Linked DNA regions of Homo sapiens: region 2 is linked to region 1. The links come from fine-mapping of genetic effects on plasma protein levels. A gene starts in region 1. The other region holds a variant in brackets. All regions are shown on one strand. Distances are from middle to middle.

Region 1 (12,131 bases):
CGATCAGAAAAGGATCTCAAGGAGAAAGTCACCTGAGTTCAATTAAAGCAGCAGCCTGCTCCATCCAGAGAAGCACACTGTGTGAGAACCAATAAGAAGGAGGCTGCTAGAACTTATTTCCTATGAATTCATGCCATAATAGGTGTAAAAAAAATACCTGTAAATTGTAAAAACATTTCTCTTCATTGAGTAGACGTGTGGTGGCCCCTCCCCCGGAGCAATATTTAAAGCAAAAATAAATGAATAAATATACACTTATACAGTCCAACAGACCTACTTCTAGATATTCACTCAAATGATTGAAAACTTCTATTTTTACCAAAATCTGTATTTAAGTATTTATAGAAGTTTTATTCATAATTGCCAAAAATTGGAAACAACCAACAGGTGAATGGATAAATAAGCTGTGTTATATCCAAACAATGGAATATTATTCAGCCACAAAAAAAAACAAACTATAGATTTATACAACAATGTGGATGTATCTTAAATGCATTCTGCTAAGTGAAAGAAATCAGACCCAAAAGGTTATATATTGTATGATTGAATTTATAGGACATTCTGGAAAAGGCAAAACTCTGGTGATAGAAAACATAAGTGGTTGCCAAGGGTGGGAGGAGGGGGATGGGTTGAATAAGGGTTGTTGTGAAAGGGAATTTTCAGTATGGTAGAACTGTTCTCTATGGTATTGGAGTTATGGATACATTACTCTATATATCTGTCAAAAATCCACAGAACTATATACCACAAACAATGAGCTTTATACAAATTTAAAAAATCAATCAGTATATTTGTGGATCATAGGATAAAATGCAGATCTATGACAACTGAATTTAACTGCAAAGTCAACATAACCTAATTTCACTGAAGGGGATGGGTAAAGAGCCGACCTTGGTGATTTTTAGAAAACATTGTTTTGACTCAATATTATAAGGCTAAAGACAAAAAGAATTGTACATAAACACTGCACTAAAGATTTTTTTCTCACACAGAGTAGGAGTTAGCAATTCTGAAGCTATTAGGTTGGTGCAAAGGTAATTGCGGTTTAATGGCAAAAACCACAATTACCTTTGCACCAACCTAATTTTTTACATTATAGAAATAAGAACATAAATGGTAGATAATGGAAGCTAGGTTTCTCACTTCTAGCGAAAGAAGCTAAAAATTAGGACAAGGGAAGGCTAGAATGACCCCTATAATGTTGGATTAGAATTGGGAATGCCTAGATGAACTCGTGTTTATATATATAGATAAAATCTGATATAGCTATGGATATGTAAAACAACTGGAAAACAACTTGGCAGTTTCTTGTAAAATTAAATTTATAGACATACTTTATACAAGGCTTATACTGCATATAATGTATACTGTATACATTTCTCTATGGATCAATTCCCTGATTCCTTACCCCAACTCACACAAACCCCACCTCTGCCCAGTCCAAGCACTTTTATTTTTACCAAATATATTTTGGGGCATGCAGCCAACATGGGGATGGCATGAAGCCTGGAGTAAATATCCTACATACATGAATTAGTATATATAAATTTATTTCCTAGCTCTGTCCATTGAGGGGAGCGTAGAAGCACTGACACCCTAGTAACAATGAGAAGGTTAGTGCCTTGATCTTGATTTCTTTTCTTTTCTTCTTTTTGGTAGGGTGGGGGACAGGGTCTCACTCTGTTGTCCACACTGCAGTGCAGTGGCATGATCTTGGCTCACTGCAGCCTTGACCTCTTGGGCTCAGGCAATCCTCCCACCTCAGCCTCCTGAGTAGCTGGGACTATAGCTACTGTGCACATCACCACACCCAGCTAATTTTTGTAGAGATGGGTGTAATAGCCAAGGTTCTCTAGTGGAACAGAATTAATGGAATACATATATATATATATATATATATATATATATATATATATATATATATATATGAGTTTATTAAGTATGAACTCACATGATCACAAGGTCCCATAGGCTGTCTGCAGGCTAAGGAGCAAGGAGAGCCAGTCCGAGTTCCAAAACTGAAGAACTTGGATGCTCAGGGGCAGGAAGCGTTCAGCACGGGAGAAAGATATAGGGTGGGAGGCTAGGCTAGTCTAGCCTTTTCACATTTTTCTGCCTGCTTTATATTTGCTGGCAGCTGATTAGATGGTGCCCACCAGATTAAGGGTGGGCCTGTGTTCTCCAGCCCACTGACTCAAATGTTAATCTCTGTTGGCGACATCTTCACAGACACACCCAAGATCAATACTTTGCATCCTTCAATCCAATCAAGTTGACACTCAGTATTAACCATCACAACAGGGTTTTGCCCCATTGCCTAGGCTGGCCTCGAACTTCTGGGCTCAAATGATCTGCCTGCCTTCGCCTTCCAAAGTGCTGGGTTTACAGGTGTGAGCCATGCTACTGTGCCTGGTGGTCCTGGCCTTTGATTTCTAAATAGCTTTTTCCAATAAAAAGAAGAAGTGCTTAATAGTAAAATGACTGATTCTAGAGCTGGAGCAGGGAGAATACAAGCTAATTTAGTTGGTACTGCTATACCAATGCTGATTTCTTAGTTTTGACAAGTGGACCATGGTTATGTAAGATGTTAACATTAAGGAAACATTAGGGGAACCTGGGTGAGGTATATACAGGAGTGCTGTACTATCTTTGCAGCTCTTCTATAAATCTAAAATTATTCCAAAATAAAGAATCGTTTAAAACATGGGGGAGAAGAAAAAATGTTTTCTAGCTAATGGGAACTACGTGAGCGAAGCACAGAAATAAGAAAACCCCTGGTTTGTGACTGGGGAGCTAGCTGCTGGGATGGAGGGGAGAGCAGACAGAGAAAGAGGAGTTATTTAAGCCAACATATTCCAAGCATAAATTTTGATGCTTGGAAAGGCAGGATCAGACCATGTGGTCCTTATATGTATAGGGACCATATGATGCATCATCTGAACTGAAGCACGTTTGAGAATGAAAGGGCATGCTCAGAAGACAGGCGGCCAGGACAACAAGCATAAACTAGGGCTGTCCTAGCAAACTAAATATATGGTCACCCTGTGTATATGCAGGGGGCTTGGACTTGATTTTGAGAGCAGTGTTTTCCATTATGCATATTTAAAAGTTTTACAGGCAAGTTCCACCATCAAATACACTCATAAAATACTGGGTAAAAGAAATTTTTACTTGTTTCTTTCCTGAACCACTTCTCAGCGTCTTTAATTTACAAATATGCTCTGTGAATCTTCAAGAATGCAATATAATATGTTTCCCAAACATTTCTTTGTAGACCAATTCCCTGATTCCTTATTTCAACCCACACAATTCCCCAGCTCTCCCCAATCTAATTATTTTGGTTTTTTTTCTTAAGAAATACAGTTCAGGGAATGCTGCAATCATGGAAATGGCATGAAGCCTGGAGCAAAGTTCTCAGATTAGAGCTTCAAATATTCAGTGGTGGCTTTGACAATAATAAAGTTGAGAAGACCTGGAGATAGAAGATCCAACAAGGAGGCTATTGCAGTGGATCAGGATGTCAACCGTGAGGGACAGAGAGAAGAGGGCACATATGAACAACACTTAGGAGGTAAAATTAGAAACGAAAATACCAGTCATCAGGAGGTAAAATTAGAAACAAATATACCGGTCATCATGCTATAATGGCCCATGTAAGATTTCCACGGGATATCTGTTTATTACCTCCATGTTCAAAAGCTAGGGCAAAATCAATTCTGTGCTTGATATATGACTAGGCACTTGTGTGATCTTAAACAGAAAACAAGTAGACTGTAGAGAGACATGGAAGGTGCTTAACAATAAGGCACAACTGAACTAACTCTTGTTTATTAAGTATTAATTTAAGCTTCCTTTTAATCTAGCATAGATTTTTTAAACCAGTTGTGGTTTTCCCACTGTATTATAAATAAAAACAAACCTTCATAAGTCAACTTGTCCTTCTCACTTACCAATAAGTCCCTGTTTGCTCTATTTACCTTTATGCGTCTTTTACTTCTTTGGCTTTCCCAGAAGATCACATAGTGGTCATGTAAAAAATATTTTTAGTTCAGTAACTATTAAATGAACCAGCAATTATCTCCTTCTATTCCCTGGAATTGCTATCCCAGACACTGGAGATACAGCAGTGGACAGTTCTCCATCCTACATGAGAGATGTTACATAGGAGGTATTTATGGTATTTATATTAATAAGGACACCACAAGTGTGCAGATAACATTCCCCACTCAACAACTTCTGGTTTCCTTCAAAATCTCTCCAAGAAGGCCCAAATCTCGCAAATTACTATTTCTGAAAATCCAAATTACAAGCTTTCAGTCATAGGTAACTTCTGCACATGGAAATGATTTATTTTGGGAGATGTGACATTATCACTCATCAAATTAGGAGACTTTTAAAGCCCTACCACTTTCAAGACACCTGGCTGAATTTAACTTGGTAGCAGCCAGATTCACAGATGGAATACTGTGTCAGGAACTCTTAGTAATTCATTTATCTTAATACTTCTAAATTTTGCAAGTTTGTCTAGACTATAATTCTTTTTTTTCCCATTTGAATACCAAAGGATGAAATCTTATTCTAAGTTTTCAAAAGACCTGGAAGGAATCCACTCATAACATATTTTAAAACAAGGAATTGGAATGAGCCCAAGATGAGGGCTCAGACAGCTAAGTTTTGGGCCCAGCATAGTCAGTAACTATCAGGGTAACTTGAAGAGGCCACTTAATCTCAGGTTCTTCTGTAGTGCATTGTACCTTCCCTCCCCGGAGCCCAGAGTTCTATCAAAGGTAATATGAATGGGTATTTGGAAAGTGCACTAAACCTCACATGGATGTAAGATCCTTTCATGTGTTCCTTCAATGATTGAAATGTTTCTTCCTACGTTCACCAGCCACTTCCTAATTCTCAAGTACAATGCACTACTTTCAGTTCTTTATTTACTTGAACTTTGTGTAACAGGTGACATCATGGACAATTCCCTCCTTTTTTCCTTCATTCTCTAGTTTACCTTTTCCTGGTTTATTTCCTATCTTGTGGGTTACTCGTTTTCAGGGTTATTCTTTCTCTGTCCATCTCTCTTAAGCAGACAACATTCCACACTTAGTGTTGGTGAGTTCCAATCAGAATTCTATCCTGGGTTTTGTTTTTTTCCACCTAAGTGCGTCTGGACTTTTGATATCACCTATCCGGGTAATCATTTTAGAAAATAGTGTTGCCTTAATATAGGCAAAGGCTAAGCCAATCTATCTTCTAATTAATTTGGAGAGGGCTTTCTTTCATTTGTAGCAATTGATGCTTTTCATCTAACAATTACAATATATTTGCATATTTATCATTGGAACTGTCTCTGCTTGTTTTAAACCCTGTGAAAACTACGCCCTGCTTTTCAGGAATGCTTAGAATGACTTGTATGTACTAGGAAAACTTGTTTACAAGTGAGCACCCAGAGATGACTCTTCACTTATTCCTTCATTGTTCCTGCTAGGATTGTGTACTCGCCTTTGCATTTTTCGATAGAGCTGTCAACGCGATCTACTGCAGTTAAAGGTTAGCAAACAAGACAGGCAAGAGCTAATGGGGCGGGGTGAAGACCCGCGTGCAAGAAGGCTGGCTTCACCAGATAAAGAAGACAACTGTCCTCCATTCTGTCCTTTTTTGCACGCAGGCTAAGAGGCGTTCACCATCTCTACGTCAGGCTTCAAAGAACAGCTCCCTTGCAATTTTGCTGATACCCCCATTCCTTAGCTTGGAACCGGAGGGGCGGTGAGGGCCGCTGTCACTCAGCCCCGCGGGCCAATAGAAAAGGGGTGAACCCCGCCTTCTTCCTGAGTTGTGCTGCGGGCATGCGCACTGGGCGTCCCCACGCCACCGCCCATCAGCTGAGAATTGCAGCTGAGGGCTCCGGGGTAGGTGGGTGACGGCGGTCGGAGGTGTAGGAGGGAGCCGTGGAGGTCCAGGTAAGAGGACCCTGGGGAGGGGGCTCCCTGGCCGGGCGACAGGGAGGCGCGGTGCCCCTGCGGCTGCTGCGCCTTCTTGTTTGTGCGCGTGGTCAGGTGGCCGCCGCCCTGCGCTCTGCAGCAGGCACTCGGGAGGCTAGGAAGGGCGGGACTGCCCCAGCTCCCGGAGCGCCTGCGGCTCCCCACGCCCCCCGGCCGGGTGCAAGGGCGCGGCGCGTTCCGCATTCCGGGTGCGCGCGGCTGTGGTCAGGTGGGCCTACCCAGCCACGCACCCGCCGCGGTCCCCTGGGCAGAGCTCCGGAGGCGCACGGCTGGCGGAGCGCACCCCGGGGAGGGCGCCAGAGCCGGCTGGGGCCCAGCTCAGGAATCCAGACACGACCAAATGACCTCTTCCTCTTTTCAACTCACGGATTGAAAAACACACTAAACTTCCCGAATATAGAGGAACTGAAAAATGTATGGCTGTAGCAGGCGAACCGTGTATGTTTATTTATTCAGAGGATCGTAGTATTGTTTTTTTAATTTGGCTTGATGACTTTAACATACTTTGACATTCTTTGAGTATACACCTTTAATTAATTTACATAAAAACCTTTAAACGTACATAAAATATTTCTAGTATTTCCTCCACCTTGTTTTCTAGTTACTTTCTTTAAATTCAGACAAAGAAAAAAAGTTGCATTTCTGATCAAATGCTGTGTGTTTTTTCCCACAAATTTCTTACATTTGTTTGGCTCTTATCTGTATACGTTAATTTTTGTTTACCTCAGATCGTTGTATTCTGACTATAATTATATATAATATATAAAACTTGCCCAGAATCTGGAAGAAAAGAAAGTAATTATGAAATGCTGTGCTATTTAATAATGTTGGAAGTGGACATTTCTTCTGCAGGTTCTCTGAGCACACCTGGGCAGAGGCTGATAACGGTGTTAAACTGTGTTTTGTGTTGTGGACAGGCCTTATAGGCTACTTTGAGAAGTTGGCCTCAGACTCGTGACTAGTTAAGAATTATGCTCTTAACTTCACAGTTTCTGTAGAGGTTAATATGATACCATATTAACTGATTAACATCATAATTTTTCCTCAGATATGTTACTTATGTTGCTCTTGATAACAAAATCAATCCTTATTTTGGTTATGACCCCAAACTTTAAGTGCTGATGATTGAAAAGTAAATTATAGAAAATATTCACAGTAAGTCTGAGTGAAGTTTGCTGTGATTCCATTTAATTTGCAAGTTTCATGTGTGAAAGTATGAAAAAAACAATCCTCGGTATTGTGAACTAAAACCAAGTAGTACAAAAGGTCAGTGATGAAAGAGCTAAGGCCAAAGAATACAGTTAATGTAGTTTTTGCAGAGGATACTTATGTAGACAGAGCACCCTCACATTCCTTGAGCATTTACTATGCACCAGGCACTGTAGATTACACAGGATGACAAGGTCATCTCTCTCCTGTTTATATTCCAGAAGTAGCTCCTGTTTGTATTCCAGAGGTGTAGGGATAAATAATAAACAGTGATTAATTCGACTTTTGAGTATTGTGAAGCAGTAAGTTAGATTGACAAAGAGTGACCAGTGGTGAGTTCTCACTTTCATATCAGAGTGGTCACAAAGGTTTCTCTAGCATGTGATGAGGCCTTGCTGGGGAGAAGGAGCCAGTCACGTGGAGATCATGGGAAGAGCCTTCTAGAAATAGGAAATGGCACCCAGCAAAGGCCCAAGGCAGCAAGAAGCCTGGGACCTTCGGTATCTGAAAGAAGGCACTGGAATTTTATGTTTTGGAAATGGTAATATTTACCCTCACGCTGGGTGTGTGTTCTTAGGAGGTGGGTACATTCATTCATTCTACAAATGTTTGTTAAGCACTTGTGATGTAGCCAGGCAGTGAGAATAGTGCAGTCCACAAAACAGACAAAAAAATGCTCACCCCCCACCCCTCAGAACTTACTTGGGGTAGAGGGTATAGAGAAGTCCAGTTGTTTATGCTGATGCTAATGATTAAGAAAGTGAAATTGACTACTTCTTTGCCCAGGGTAGATTTATAGAGCATGAGATATATGCTAAATGGAAATCTTAAGGATTCTACAGTATATCGGATTTTAACTGGGAGTAGTGTTTGACACTTCAAGATTAAATTTTAACATTCCTTTTGTTCATTCCTTTGTGTTCTTTAGAAGCCGTCTTGAGAAGACTCTCATCTGAGTGTTGCACTTTGATTCTCCCTTCCTGTTTTTCTCTTTATAGTGTTTGTATATCTTCATAGAAAGATGATTATTGCAATGTGGAGATTAGCACTGTGCAATAGATCTTTCTGTGATAATGGAAGTGGTCTATGAATGAGCTGTCCAAGCTGCTGGCCACTAGCCACACAGAATTTTTGAACATTTGAAAGGTGTCTAGTGTGACTGAGGAACTGATTTTTTTCATTTAACTTAATTTTAATTAATTTTAATTTTTTAAAAACGAGAGCTACAATGTAATTTAAGTGATACACAATATAAAATGGTGTAAATTGTCACATGAAAAAATGAAATGTAGAGTAAAAGTGTAGTTTCTTACTGCAATCAGTTATCTTGTTAGCAGCTTAAAATAACCTGTAATAAGATTTTTTTGCTTTTATTATTTTAATCGACAGATAATGATTTACATATTTGTGGATACATGTGATACATCAGTAGATGTGTACAATGTGTAATGATCAAATCAGGGTAATTAGCATATCCATTACCTCAAACATTTAACATTTCTTTGTGTTAAGAGCATTCACAATTCATTCTTTCTTCTAAGTATTTGAAAATATGCAATAAATTGTAATTAATTGTAGTCACCTTTTAGGGGTATAGAACACTAGACTTCATTCCTCCTACCTAGCTGTATTTTGGTGTTAGTTAACCAACCTTTGGCTATCCCCTTCCCGCCATCCTTCTCTGCTTCTAGTAACCACTATAATTTTAACAGCCCATTTAGTTAGTGGCTAGTCTGTTAGTACAGGTCTAGGTAATGAATTATATAATTATTATTCTGAGCAATTAAATAGGAATTCTGAGTGGGCTTTCAAAAGTATTCAACAAGAGTACTTTAGTGCGTAGCAGCTCTGGGCTAGGTAATGGAGACTGATGTGGAAAGCAGACATCTGAATAACTCAGCATCCATTTAGCCTATATGCAGAGATCATAAGCTTTTAATCAATTTGTAGTTACCTATCCTGTCTGTCTATGCTTGTATATATATTTTTTAAAGACAACCATTTGGTTCCTTTCCTTTGTGTGTCTCATTATCAAAAGAGCCAACTGTTGTTGCCTTTTAGATACCACTTATTAGCAGAATAATAGAGAAAAGGAGTAAGCTATTCCTCTGTGTTACCTTGATCAACTCATGTAGTTATCCCAAACATATTCCTTCATCTTAGGAGTGGGAATAGCAAAACTTCATATGGGGCATGCAGAAAAGTGGTAAATTTGGTTTTTCTTTTGTCTTTTTTTATTTTATGTTATGTTATGTTATGTTATGTTATGTTATGTTATGTTATGTTATGTTATGTTATGTTATTTTGAGACGAGTCTCGCTCTGTCGCCGGGCTGGAGTGCAGTGGCGTGATCTTGGCTCACTGCAACCTCCGCCTCCTGGGTTCAAGCGATTGTCCTGCCTCAGCCTCCTGAGTAGCTGGCACTACAGGCGCATGCCACCACACCCAGTTAATTTTTTTAGTAGAGATGAGATTTCACCATGTTGGCCAGGATGGTCTCAATCTCTTGACCTTGTCATCTGCCTGTCTTGGCCTTCCAAAGTTCCGGGATTACAGGCGTGAGCCACCGCGCCCAGCCCAAATTTGGTTTTTCTAACTGAGTTCACCTGCCCTCAATTTTGTTATACAAGGAAGCAGTATGGCTTAGTGTTTAAAAAATGTCGGCTCTGTGGTTATTTTCAAATATTTGCTCCTTTGCTTATAATGATAATGAGGCATAATGATATGCCTCAGTTTCTTCATGTAAAAAAATCACATTAGCAATTATACCCACATGATAGGCTTATAAGAATTAACTGAGAAAATAAATTTAAAAGTCATAAGCACAATGCTTAGGAAATGTAAGTCCTGGATGAGTGTTGGCCATTGTTAACTTTGTTTTATTTTACACATCTTTCTTCTCTATCTTTTGCAAATTGCTTTTCATTCTTCACACATGATTCCTGGCTAGATACAGTGGCTCAAACCTGTAATCCCAGCACTTTGGGAGGCTGAGACTGGAGGATCGCATGAGCCCAGGAGTTCAAGACCAGTCTGGGCAACAAAGTGAGACCCCCATCTCTATAAAAAAATCAAAAAATTAGTGGGATGTGGTGGCAGGTGCCTGTGGACCCAGCTACTCGGGATGCTGAGATGGGAGGATTGCCTGAGCCTGGAAGTCAGGGCTGCAGTGAGTCGTAATCACACCACTGCACTCCAGCCTGGGTGCTCCTGTCTCAAACAACAACAACGCCAAACAAAGAAAAAGTAAAACAAAACTCATAATTCCAGTCAATCTAAGTAGCACCTCTTTGGGTGAATGAAGCCACTTGCCAATTGTCTCACCAGCAGGAACTTTCTCACATTTAGTAGCTTGAGGAAAGGGATGAAGAAAATTGATTGTGTTTGTGACTAAGTGATTGATTTTCCAGAGAGGAAAAAAGGTGGCCTTGAAAGAAAACAGTGAGAAGACTTGGGCTACACTGGTGTGAGTTTTAAGGGTAAGGAAAATGCTGTAGAATACTGTCCTTGACTTGATGGAACTCTTTATGGGAGAGAGAGTAGGCCTCAGGTGTGCTTGCATGGTTTTGAGACAGGTGATGAGTTTCTCTTGGTCTTGTGCTGATGCTGGTCCTGCAGCTGCAAGAACAGATCATAACTTTCCTCTGTGTAGGGTGGAAAAGCATTTGTTCTCTGGATGTGCATTATCTCATTTTGATTCTGGCAGTGGGCCCAAATGCTAAGTGTCTTGCCCAAAGTAGAAATTTCCAGTTGCTACTTCCATGGTGTGCCGCACAGGCAATGGCTGAGTTCTTGTAGCTTCACAGACATGTAGACACGAGAGAAAGCCAAGGGTACGAGCTGGAGACATGGATGTGCGACTCATTCAGGTATAGATTAAAATGGAACCATGTATATGGAGGAGCATCCCCAGAGATTACATGAATAACAAACTGAACATTTTTTCATTCAATGTGTTTGTTTTGGCTTGTAAGCCAGTTTTTCCAGAGATCTACTTGATAGAGGGAAAGGAGAAAGGAAGATGTCATTGAACCAAGAGAAAATTGTCTTTCTCCATACCTTGGAATATTATTTGGCAATAATGAAGGAATATTATTTGGCAATAATGAAGGAATGAAGGACTGATATATGATACAGCACAGATGGACTTTGGAAGCATACTAAGAGAAAGAAGCTAGTCTCGAAGAACACATTGTATGATTCCATTCCTATGAAATGTCCAGAATAGCAAAGCTATAAAGATACAAAGTAGATTAGTAGTCACCTTTGGCCAGTGAGGTTGGGGAGAAATGGAGAGCGATTGCTAATGATTACAAACTTTCCTTTTAGCGTAATAGAAATGTTCTAAAAGTGATGATTGTACAATGTTGTAAATATATTAAAAACCATTGGCTTGTGTACTTCAAGTAGGTGTATTGTATTGCCATATCTCAATAAATTATATCTCAATAAAGCCATTTTATTTATATAAATTTAAGGGGTGCACATGCAGTTTTGTTACATGGTTATATTGCATAGCGTGAAGTCTGGGCTTTTAGTGTAATCATCACCTGAATAATGTACATTGTACGCATTAAGTAATTTCTCATCCCTCACCCTCCCATCCTTTTGAGTCTCCAATGTCTTCTTATTCCACTCTCTGTCCATGTGTACACATTATTTAGGTTCCACTTACAAGTGAGAACATGCAGCATTTGACTTTTTTCTGAGTCATTTCACTTAAGATAATGGCCTCCAGTTCATCTGTGTTGCTGTGAAAGACATAACTTCAGTCTTTTTTAAGGTTGAATAGTATTCCATTGCATTTATATACACTACATTTTCTTTATCCATTCAGGAATGTTAATAGACACTTGATGGGCACTTAGGTTAATTCCAAATCTTTGTTCTTGTGAATATTGCTACAATAGACATATGAGTGCA
Region 2 (12,131 bases), 40 kb after region 1:
CATCAGCTGGGTCATTAAAGCCAAGTTGTAGATCTGCTTATACCACCACTTGAACTCGCTGGATGGTCTTTTCTTTTTGGGAGTTGAAGCTAAAGCTGGTAACCTTTGGGTCATTCAGTAAAGGGTGGAAGCAGCATAAAAAGTCTGTTTCTCATTTGTACTTGAGGCTACAAAGAAAAGCACTTTGCAGAAGTATGCCAGTTATCTACAGATTAATTCACCAAGATTTTTCACTGAGGAAACACTGCCCTGTATTTTCATGGATTTATTTTCTACCTGCTGGCTTACTTATGCTTTGCAGGCATCTAAGAGTACATGTTGCCTCCTGCTTTTCTGGTCCTAAAAGCAGACGTAACCAGTGTATTGGACTAATGTAGTGTCCTGTAGGAGGAGATGATCCGTATCCTTGACAACGAAATTGTAGTACAAAGATAGACAGTGTGCATAACCGTGAGATAAGCCTGTGAAGGCTCGCTGATGTCCCATCCCATTGATAGCAAATCCTTTCTCATGTTCTCTGTCCTTTAGGGTAGAGCAAAAAGTATTTGCCATATAAGCAGGTATATACAGGTTGCTAGAGATTGTGATGCTCTGTTGTAGTAAATCCATCACATTTTGAGGAACAGTGCAGTTGGAGTCACCACCTGAATAAGCTTTTGCTAGTTATCATGAGCATTAGCCTTCTGCATTCTCCAGATAGGCCGGTTAAATGGGAATGAGAGGCATGTCCACTCCCTGCTCTTTCTGTCCTTGATGGTGGCATTTCTGAGTAATTCCCAGGGAATAGATAATGCCCTTGGTTTTATTTTTTTATTAGAGTGGGTCCCCAGGGGCTTCCAATGATTTCTTCCTTCCATAAGAGCCCTTACTCAGGGAGTATGAGTGAGAACTGGGGGTTGCTCAGTATATCTGTTCAGAAACCGGAAATTACCACATGGTGGAACTAGGCTCCCATTGGGCCTGTCAGAATCCATTTCTACTCAATTCTTTAATTGGCTGAGTAATTTTATATAGCATTCATGTGGTGTACTTGTTTGTACTTTGCAAAATTGATATGCATTTCGGTCCTTTTTTTGCTATTCAGTTTATTCATGAATATTAAAGTTCCTATTCTTGGCCCATTTTTCTTTTTTTTTATTATACTTTAAGTTCTGGGATACATGTACAGAACGTGCATGTTTGTTATATAGATATACACGTGTCTTGGCCCATTTTTCTACTGGATTGTCTGACATTTTCTAAATTATTTATAGTTATTGACTATTGCTCCCTCTTTCTTATATATTATGTAGTCTTTACCTTTTGTTTTTAAGGCCTTTGATTGTAATTATATTCTCAACTGCTTTTCATAATTTTTACCAATCAGAAACATAAAAGTTTAATTATCAGTGAAGTTGAAGTTTTGTTATGTACACATTTGCCTTTTGTAAATTGCAAGATTATAACCTTTGTCCATTTTTTACTGGGCTGTTGTTCTGTTACCAAAAATAATTACCATTGTAGTTTAACCTCTTTCCTCATCATAACCTGCAGTTACTGTCTCCTGTGTGTATATGAACACACACTTACATATATACTTGTGATATATGTACACATTTTTTGTATAACATTTAACCAAGTTATTTTATGTAGTCAAATTTGTCAATATTTTCCTCTGTGGATTTTAGTTTTGTGTCATGCTTAGCTAATATTTTATATCTCTTACTCCAAGATCATGTATAAGATCATATAATAAAAACATTTATATTTCTTAGAGCAGTTTAATATTTTCAATTTTACTATTTAAATTAATGGTTTATTAAAAATGTATTTTGCTATATGCTGGGAGGTAGGGTTCTTTCTCCCCTGCCCAAATGGTTAGTCAGTTTTCCTGGTGTCATTTATTAAATAATTTATTTTTTCTCACTTGCTATGATTTTTTCCTAAAGAACAATAACACTTTAGAGTTGAGATAAATACCTGCCAATAGTCTATCGATGCCCATACTACAGTTTGTATTATCAATACGCTTAAGAAAATAAAGCCCCTATAAGGCAGTTCAAGAAAATCTGTTGAGGTTGAGAGGGAATATATAGCTAATTATAAGCAGCCATAAGTTAAACACGGCAAACAAAATTTGTTTGTCTTATGAAAGGAAAAATCAACCCCCAAAAAGCAAAAATAAATTCCTATTAAATTAGCCAAATGCTAAGAGTTGCTATATGCTTTGATTCTTCTCTAGTGTTTCTGTTTTTCAGCTTTCACTTAAAAGCAGTATTTATTACATCATTCGCGGTGACCAAAATTATCCTGCATTTTGTAATACTTTATCATTCCCTTGAGCATGTAAATAATGAATAGTTTTAAAGCATTTAAGCTATATAAGTAAACCACTCATTTAAATAAAAAGAATGAGGGGGTTAGATTGTTAAGAGTTCTTTGGATTTTCAGCTTATTTCTACTTGACGTTTTATTTATGTACCATGACATTTTATTTATGTCCCCACATACATAAAACTGTAGGTCCTCCCCTTTTGTGTAGAGCCTTTTTTAAAAAAATTGCAATAGTCATAGACTTCCGGATTGTGAGTTTAACATGACTTTTAAGCCCTGGACTTTTTATTTTAAAATCTTTTCTAAACCTCACAAAATATATATATAAGTATATAGTACAATGAACCTTTCACCTGGATTTGCCAGTTGTGGGCATTTTTCAACTTTTGTTTAATGTGTTTTTTACTTTCTGTATTCAAATTTCTCCAGTTGTCCCTATGATTTTCTTTATAGTGCTTGCTTTTTTCCTGATTCAGAATCCAGTCAAAAATCATACAGTGTCTTTTGGGTATTTTAATTCCTTAATTTAGAAAGCACCTCTGTCTTTGTCAACTTTTTTTTTCCCTTTTGTGACATTGACGTCTTTAAATGCCCAGGCAAGTTATCTCGTAGATTGTCCCACAGTCTAGACTGGTCTAATTTCTTTTTGTGATTAGATTCATGTTAAATATTTTGGCAAGAAAAATCCTCAGATCATATTGTGGCTTTCTCGCTGCAGCATGCCACAAGGTTCATAATGTCAGTTTTTTCCATTCTCACTGCTAAATTTGGTCATTTGTTTTCAGACAACAGATTTATATATGATAAAGTTATATCTTTTGTAATTAATGTCATCTGTGTGGTGGTAATTTAAGTTGTATGAATGTCCTGTGATTTTAGCATTTTTTGATGACCTTGCTGAAATCAGTTATTACATGGATAATTGAAAAATGATTTTTTGTAATTCTATTCCTCTCATTTATTAACAATAACTTATTTATATTATATTCTAATGAAATATGTAATTGTTACTTATTTCCTCACAATTTTTATGCTAGTAGTGTTAAAGTCTGTGTGCCCTTGTATTTACTTAATAATATCCTGATGGGATAAGGAAGAAGATAGTATTTTTGGGTCATAAGTGCATTTTCACAAGTTAACATTCTCACACAATTTCCTCTTGAAAATTTTTGTTACTAATTAGATTTAAGTAAACCATTTAGTTATTCTTTTTTCCAGTTAATATTTTCTATTTTCATCTTTGTTTTTCTGTCTCTTTTCAACTGCCCAATTGCTTGTACATATTAATTTTTAACTCTTTCTGTTACCTTAACTTTTGTGACAATTAATACATGAATTTTCTATTATAATAGCTGTGGAAATACAAAGAACTCTGAATCAACTTGGAACACCTCAAGATTCACCTGAATTGAGGCAACAGTTGTAAGTATCTAGTTAAATAAATAAAAGAGAAAGAAAAAACTCTATTGCTATTATTCTGTTGCTTTTACAGTATGTAGTATATTATGTTTACTGGAAGAAAAAATGGAAAAACAATGGAGTTTTTCTGCTACCTTATCCATACATTTGTACCAAGCTTTTGTGTAGATTTTTCCCTGTCTGGAGTAGGCAGGTGTTTTTATATTAAAGATCTGGAAGACTGAGGTGGGCAGATCACAAGTTCAGGAGTTCGAGACCAACCTGGCCAATATGGTGAAACCCCGTCTCTACTGAAAATAAAAAAATTAGCCAGGCGTGGTGGCGAGCTTCTGTAGTCCTAGCTACTCAGGAGCCTGAGGCAGGTGAATCTCTTGAACCCGGGTGGCGGAGGTTGCAGTGAGCCGAGATCACACCACTGCACTTCAGCCTGGGCGACTGAGCAAGACTCTGTCTTAAAAAAAAAAAAAAAATTCCTTGATAGGCTTACCCTATCAAAGCAGAATTTCTTTAGTTGCATTTCTTACAGTTTTTAGGTAGGTTGTTTTTGACAGCTGTTGAAAAATTATACTCTAGTATCTCAATTTATGTGATTTACTTTCCATAGCTAAAAATCCCCGCAGTCACCAGAGTTTTATTTGGTTTAGATCCAATACATAACCAGCTACGTGAGCTGTCTCCCCACAAGTTTATACCTACATCCTTGAATTTCAGAGAGCATTAGCTTCCGTTTAAAAAAAAGTTATAATGAATTATATAGTACATATTCCAGTAAATTAATATGCTGTTAGAAGACCAGCAGTCATAGTGATAATATTTTGTCTGTGGTATGTTGTGGATTTTACAGAGTATTTTTACATATTTTATCATTTAAACCTTACAGAATTAGAGTAAGAGAAATAGACCAAAAGAACTGTTTCCATTTTGTTCATGTCTCTTACGGGTTTAACGAGTTACCCAATGTCATTTAGAACTTAACTCTTAAATTTTATTTCAGTACTGTTACAGCTGTAAATTTCAAGTCACATATATCTAGTAAGCAATACTTCTAAACAACATTAACTATAGAGGGAAAACTGCAAAGAGGACGATATTAAAAGATAGGTAATAGGAATTCATATTTTTAGGAAGTACAATTTGAAGGACTTACAATTATCTCTAATTTATATTTTATTTTTCCACAGTGGGTAAGTGTCAGAATGGTAAAAATGCTCCAAATCTAAATAATAAACCACAATTCATTAAACTAAAGTAAAATGGAATAGAAGTACATAATTCATAAAAGTTCTAATATTTTGATAGAGTTAATAATGAAGATTCTGAATATATATCCGTAGTCACTAAGGATTTTTTTTTTTTTTTTTTTTTTTTGAGACAGGATCTCATGCTGTCACCCAGGCTGGAGTGCAGTGACATTATCACGGTTCACTGCAGCCTGGACCTCCTAGGCTCA[A/G]TCGATTCTCCCACCTCAGCCTACTGTGTAGCTGGGAATACAGGCACATCCACCATGCCTGGCTAATTTTTGTATTTTTTGTAGAGATGGTGTTTTGCCATGTTGCCGGCACTGGTCTTCAATTCTGGGCTCAGACAGTCCACCCACCTCACCCTCCCAGAGTGCTGTGATTACAGGCATGAGCCACCATGTCCAGCCTAAGGTCTTCTTTTTAAAACTTTGACTATATTATGATTTCCAGAGATTTACAAAAATGCATTAAAGATAGGGTATTTGGTAAATAGAGATAGAAATAGATTTTAATTACCCTTTGTCAGTCAAATACAGATCCCTATTCTTAAGCATATTCTTATACAATATCTCATTATTTTAAAGGACCCCAAGTGTGACCAGACCATATTTAAAATGAGATGAAATATATAAGAGGTACTGATGTTGTGATTTGTAAAACATCACAATTAATATGAGCTTTTTTTTAGTGTCATGTTTTTAAGTTGGAAATCTTTTCAATTTATAAGATAGCTAGATAAAATATGGATATGTAGTCAGCACTCTGTATCCATAGATTATATATCCCCAGATTCAACCAACTGCAGGTCAAAAATATTCAAGAAAAAAAAAAAAACAACACAATAATAAAAAAAAAAACTGAACTATAAAATATAGCAACTATTTACATAGCATTTACATTATTGTATTGGGTATTATAAATAATCTAGAGATGATTTAAAGATATGGGAGGATATGCATAGGTTATATGCAAATGCTATACCTTTTTATATCAGGGACTTGAGCATCAGCGGATTTTGGTATCCACAGGGGTCCTGGAACCAATCTGCAGATACTGAGGGATGACTATAATTTACTTCTTTTATTTATTGTGTTCTTTCCCTTTACAAGGAAATGCCATTATTTTTTCCAGCGTAAACTTAAATAATAGTAAATTTGTACCAATATTGCCTCTTTCCTTTTTATTTTTATTTTTTGAGACAAGAGTTTTCCTCTGTTGCTCAGGCTGGAGTGCAGTGGTGCAATCTCAGCTCATTGCATCCTCCACCTCCCATGTTCAAGTGATTCTTCTGCCTCAGCCACCCAAGTAGCTGGGATCACAGGCATGCTCCACCACACCTACCTAATTTTTGTTATTTTTGGTAGAGATGGGGTTTCGCCATGTTGGCCAGGCACGTCTCAAATTCCTGGCCTCAAGTGATCCGCCTGCCTCGGCCTCTCAAAGTGTTGGGATGACAGGTGTGAGCCAGCATGCCTGGCCCCTCCCCCCCGCCTTTTTTTTAAGTATCTATAGCATATACATGTTCACATAGAGAAATAAGAGAGGCCAGATATAACTAGATCTGGGAACTGGGCAAAGTCTAAGGTAACAAATCTTTTCTTGCTTACCTGACCTTCCAGGTGTGAGATGCAGATAAAGGGCTTCCACATCCCCAGTATCTCAAACATAAAGGATCAGACATCTAACAGTCTCTCCTTCAGGTTCCCTCTGATTCAAGTCATCTGTGTTTCTAAATGGCCGTTGAATTGATTTCTCTAAGCTTGCCTACCCTGTGTGAGTGAAGAACCTGACATATAATATTTGCTCATTATTTATCAAAGAATAGGATATGAAATTTTTTTTGATAGAGAAAGTTGAGAGCCAGTTTATGAAAAGGCAATTTTTGTACAACTGTTTATCAGTGTTGATTCAAAAGGCAGAGTTGAAGCTTAAAGAAGTATATTAGTCCTTTGGCTGTAATGCGTGTTTTCTCACTTTAGGCAACAGAAGCAGCAGTATACTAACCAGCTTGCCAAAGAAACAGATAAGTACATTAAAGAGTTTGGATCTCTGCCCACCACCCCCAGTGAACAGGTATCAAGCTTTAAGACACATTGTTGATGTATTGAATGTGAAAAAAACCCAGTGCACTGTAGGATCTTTGAACTGTTACGCTAGAAAGGAAATTATGCTAGAAAGGAAATCAAAAATAATTCTGTTTGAGATTAGTTCACAGAACACAAAACTATATTTAATTGCTCAGGTAGTATCCTGTGGTTCAATAAAGCAAAAATTATTTCCATGCATTTGCCCTGACCCATAATTAAGTTAGTTCTCAGAAAATGCTTCCTGAGTAATTATTTCCTGGCCTTCCGGGGCTGACTGCGTGGAACATGCAGGCTCATTCAAGATGTGAGGTGTCCTGGGGGCACATATTTATTTCCCTGCTTATTTAATGGAAGTTATTACTTAGCTAAAAGTATAAGGCTTTATTTGCCTGAAAAAGAATTACTTTAAAATAGCCTCAAAATAATAAGCTAGTTTTTAGCAGCGTGAAAACCTGAGGTGAGAAATCCAGCATAATGGGTCTTTTGCCTCAAGTTAAATATGCACAGTATTTGACATACTATCAGAATGTTACTGAGAGTTAATCTGTAAGGCCCTGTAATTGGGGAGTAAGTGAAAACTTCAGGGTTAAATAAAGAGCCAACTACCGCAAATTCAGTTGAACTTCACAGCTAGATTCTAGTTGGCTTTTTCTTCTCTTTCCTCTAGCGTCAAAGGAAAATACAGAAGGATCGCTTAGTGGCAGAGTTCACAACATCACTGACAAACTTCCAGAAGGTCCAGAGGCAGGCTGCTGAGCGAGAGAAAGAGTTTGTTGCTCGAGTAAGAGCCAGTTCCAGAGTGTCTGTAAGTATTTTAAAAGACATTCTAGAAATGAACATGGTTACTTGCTAAGGGTCCCATAAAAGTCTATAGTAGCATAATTTTTTAAGTCATAAAGATCTGTGAATATCTTGGAAATCAGCTCTTGAATATTTATTTTTATGCTTTCCTGCTCCATTTTTAGAAAAGGATGATAATTTTGTATTACGGTGGTGATTTTTTGTGTCATAGTACAGAAGATTACAGAGTATATAAAAATATAGAGACATATTTTGTCAAAAAAGATTAGGGATCAAATCCTGAGTAGTATTCTCACATCGTCTTGGTACTGAGGCTTTCTGCTTGTGTACACGCTAGTGTAGAAAGCACTTTCCTCCTGGATTACACCAAGATGACGGAGATGAATGGCGCAAGTATGTTGTATCAATATTGAAAATGAACATGAGCCTGGAGAAAATAAATGAAAGGAAGCTTTACAATAGAATTTTGAATTAATCTAATTTTAAATTCCCTTAGAAACTATCATGAGTTATTTTCTTATTCATTAACATATGGATTCCAAGACTACATTAAGCTTTAACTAAATAATACTTATTTGATCCTTGAGAATATTTAGTGAATTCCTTTCTTGTCTACTTAGAATATAAAATTACTTATAATTATATTATTACTTGAAGCAGTTGACCTGAAAAATTAGAACAAGAACTTCTTTCTCTCTGTCTCTACACACACACACACATACACACAGACACGTACATAAATCAGTTTAGTTTATTATAAGGGAAAATATGAGTGTTTATTTTTTCTCATTTTTGCTTTTTTTGCCCCTTCTCATTCCATCCTGTTACTAAATTATTCAGGGCAGTTTTCCTGAGGACAGCTCAAAAGAAAGGAATCTTGTATCCTGGGAAAGGTAAGAAATACAAAACATTTTACAGATCAAAAGGTAATTTTTCAAAGTTTATACATTAAGGTCCCTGGAACAGAATTAAAGCTTTCAATATATTATATCATAAATATCCTAAGTTGTTTATATGTTGAAAACAGAGTAAATTTGAAAAAAATTTTAAGTAATTATAAAGTATTTATTACAAAATATATAAAGTTTTCCAAATAAATGTTTATGGACTTAATTATTAATATAGACATTCCCTTATATGAGGTTTAAATCAGCTGAGAAGAAATACCCAGTTGACAGATACAGCTTCCAATAATTAAGTAATAACTCTAAACTCACATTAGCTAAAATGATATAAGTGAAATGAAAAATGAATAAATTTTATTAATATATCTGTTATATTCTTAGAATTTTTTTGAGTAGTTCTGTGACTTTGGAGAATAAAATATCCTATTTAATGAATATATCTTAAATAGGAAATGAGTCCCATTGTTTTGAATACCAATCTTTGTTTTTTTCCACATTCATTTTTTTCTGTTAGCCAAACTCAACCTCAAGTGCAGGTGCAGGATGAAGAAATTACAGAGGATGACCTCCGTCTTATTCATGAGAGAGAATCTTCTATCAGGCAACTTGAAGTAAGGCTTACATTGTAGACTTGGGCTGCTGCTCTGGTCTTAGTGAGTTTGTTCTCAAGATGCTTAGGTAATGCTGGGAGAATGCATGAGACAGAAAAATTTTGTTTTCTTTTTGAGACAGTCTCCCTCTGTCACCCAGGCTGGAGTGCGGTGGTGGAATCTCGGCTCACTGCAACCTCCGCCTCCCAGCTTCAAGCGATTCTTGTGCCTCAGCTTGCTGAGTAGCTGGGATTACAGGCACGTGTCACCCCACCTGGCTAATTTTTTGTACTTTTAGCAGAGAAAGGGTTTCACCATGTTGGCCAGGCTGTTCTCAAACTCCTGGTCTCAAGTGATCTGCCTGCCTTGGCCTCCTAAAGTACTAGGATTATAGATGTGAGCCACCATGTCTGGCCCAGAGAAAGAAAATTAATGTATCAGTTTGGTAGCATTTGTAATGTATGAGTTGGAATAATTCCTTTTTTAAAAAAATAATATTGTCCTTACTGTTTGTGCTAGGACGAGGGATCATACTCCCTCCTACTGCAGCTTTTTAAAAATTATTATTGTTATATCAAGCCATCTATGGACCACCTTAGTATTGAGAAAATACCAGTGTAGAGATAAATGTCTGTCCAAGAGTCTGGATGTCTTCCCAGAGCACATGATACACATCATACCTGCATGAGTAAGACCTTTTATAAGGCCTTCAAAGAATTTTATTTCTCTTTACTATGTTTATGACATCAAAGAGATCTAAAGGATTTATTAAGTCATAGTTCTTATGGAACCTACTTAGTTCCTAGAAAGAAGGCTAATAATAGCTAACAATGGCTACAATTTATTGAAGACCTTCCATGTGCCAGGCACTTGTGGGATGAATTCTTTATGTTAATTATCTCATTTAGTCCTTATAAAAACTTTATGAAGCAGTTAATTGTGTCATTGAAGAAAAGTAAATTTATATTTAATCACCAAGTTTATAACTTCTTTATTCAGTAGTGACATTTCACTAATCCACTGCATGTTCAAATTATTAATGTGAGACTTTAAATTTACACCTAATGTTTTATTACTTTAAATTGTCAAATTGATGTGTAAATTTTACTAGAAATACATGCTAAGAATATTTTATACCCTTGTAAGTAGATACTGCTTGTGATAACAAAACTATCAGGTTGTATAAAATGAACTCAGCAATCCATGGCTCTTCTCTATTATAGATCCTTCATTTCCATTCATTTCCATCCTGCCTCGCTCACTTGGTATTTTTAATGCCACAAACTGATTTTAGAGAACTGGTGGCTATTGTTCAAATTCTTCTTAATTATTGTCAAATATTTTCCTGATATTTCCAAAGTTTATGTATTATATTTGTGTATTATAGATGCATGCTCACCCATGTGTGAGTAGTGGTTTGGGTTTTTAAAATTTTTCCTCTTTTATGGAATGGGGACTGAATTTCTGATTATAATAATATATGCGTTTTCTCTTAGGCTGATATTATGGATATTAATGAAATATTTAAAGATTTGGGAATGATGATTCATGAACAAGGAGATGTAATAGGTAAGACCTGCTGACTTAGATTTTGGAGGTGAGAGCAAGCTACATGCACTTTACCTGCTGTAACTTTCTCACAGAAGAGTAACCACTTTCTGTCCCTTTTTTGGTTTCCCTGGAACCAAAAGCATGGTCTATAAAACACAGTAAGCATCACCCTTGGCATTATCTAAAACAGATCTCATTTTTAACTCGTGCTGGTTGAAATAACCAGCTTCATTTATTTCAGAAGCCCAAATTTAATCAGGGCCTATTGCTGCCAAGACCATGGAAGGCACCATGAAACATTATTCCAGCTTATTTCCAGGGCCTCTGGTTTTAGTCTTACTCCAATTTATTTGTCATCATGCTAAGCACTTTTGGGGAAACTTGTGGTATATGTAACTGTGCATGACATCTTGTCTTTTAGGTATTAGGGAATAGGTAGACATTTGCCTAATCATTCATTTTAATAGCTTTTTGGTAGATGAATTTAGTAGTATTACATAGAAGTTAGGAATTCTTTTTAGAAGTGATTTTCTTTTCTAAAGTTGCTAAGAATCCCTTAAGTATTGAATGTAATAGCATTTCAATTAGGGTGTAGTTGTTAACATTCATCAGGATCCTGACCATCTTGAAGTCTGGAGCTATGTATTGGTATGTCTAAAGATGCTTTTAGTATATTTTCTGAATTTGGTCCAACTGAAATATTTGCACCTTTACTTCAGTGTAACTATTTTTTATCCATTCTTACCCTCCTCTGTATCCCCAGTAGATCACAGGGTAAAATTTCAAAAACCAATTTATTCATCATCCGAAATATGTTGAGTGGCTACTATGTCCAGACACAAATCTAGGCATTGGAGATTCAGCTGAAATTAAATAACAGATAAAATACCCTATCTCAATTGATCTTATAATGGGAGGAAAGACAATTTTTTAAAAAGGCGAGAAAAGCAAGTAAATGGTGATAAGTGCTATGGAGAAAATAAGGCCAGGGTAGAGGGATGGGACTGCTAGGGGTGGAAATTGTTGCTGCTTGACACAGGGTAGTTAGGTATGATAGGTACTTACTGATAGGTAACATTTTAGTGAACCCTTGGTAGATTTAAGGGAGCAAGTAAGAGAAAGTGTTCCAGGCAGAGAGAACAGCGAGTACAAAGGCCTTGAGGCAGAAGCATACCTGACATTTTTAATGAGCAAGAAGGAGATGGAGATCATGTCCAAGTGCAG

Direction of the effects. Positions count from the first base shown, and alleles are read on the strand shown. Strength reflects both the effect of a copy and how common the allele is.
In carriers of allele G in region 2, the plasma level of the protein whose gene starts at base 5,848 in region 1 tends to be lower than with A alone (weak association).

Evidence for each region. A credible set is the group of variants that fine-mapping cannot tell apart. PIP is the posterior inclusion probability: the model's chance that the variant is causal. The UK Biobank Pharma Proteomics Project read protein levels with antibody pairs (Olink). The fine-mapping took linkage between variants from a reference panel, not from the people measured, so its PIPs are less certain.
Region 2: its variant is the best candidate, but not a certain one, in a credible set for the plasma level of the STX7 protein (UK Biobank, PIP 0.61).

The regions. Positions count from the first base shown.
Region 1 is chr6:132,506,833-132,518,963 of GRCh38, reverse strand. It overlaps STX7 (syntaxin 7), which reads left to right and starts at 5,848. Exons shown (of 10, transcript NM_003569.3): 1 at 5,848-5,957. It also overlaps the pseudogene RPL21P66. RefSeq lists enhancers at 5,542-5,741, 6,099-6,600 and a silencer at 5,892-6,381.
Region 2 is chr6:132,467,197-132,479,327 of GRCh38, reverse strand. STX7 (syntaxin 7) reads left to right here. Exons shown (of 10, transcript NM_003569.3): 3 at 3,666-3,735; 4 at 6,953-7,046; 5 at 7,728-7,865; 6 at 8,702-8,754; 7 at 9,281-9,377; 8 at 10,853-10,925. Among named protein-coding and RNA genes, the nearest start is that of STX7, 40 kb to the left of the region's middle. The variant A/G (reference allele first, on the strand shown) is at 5,183.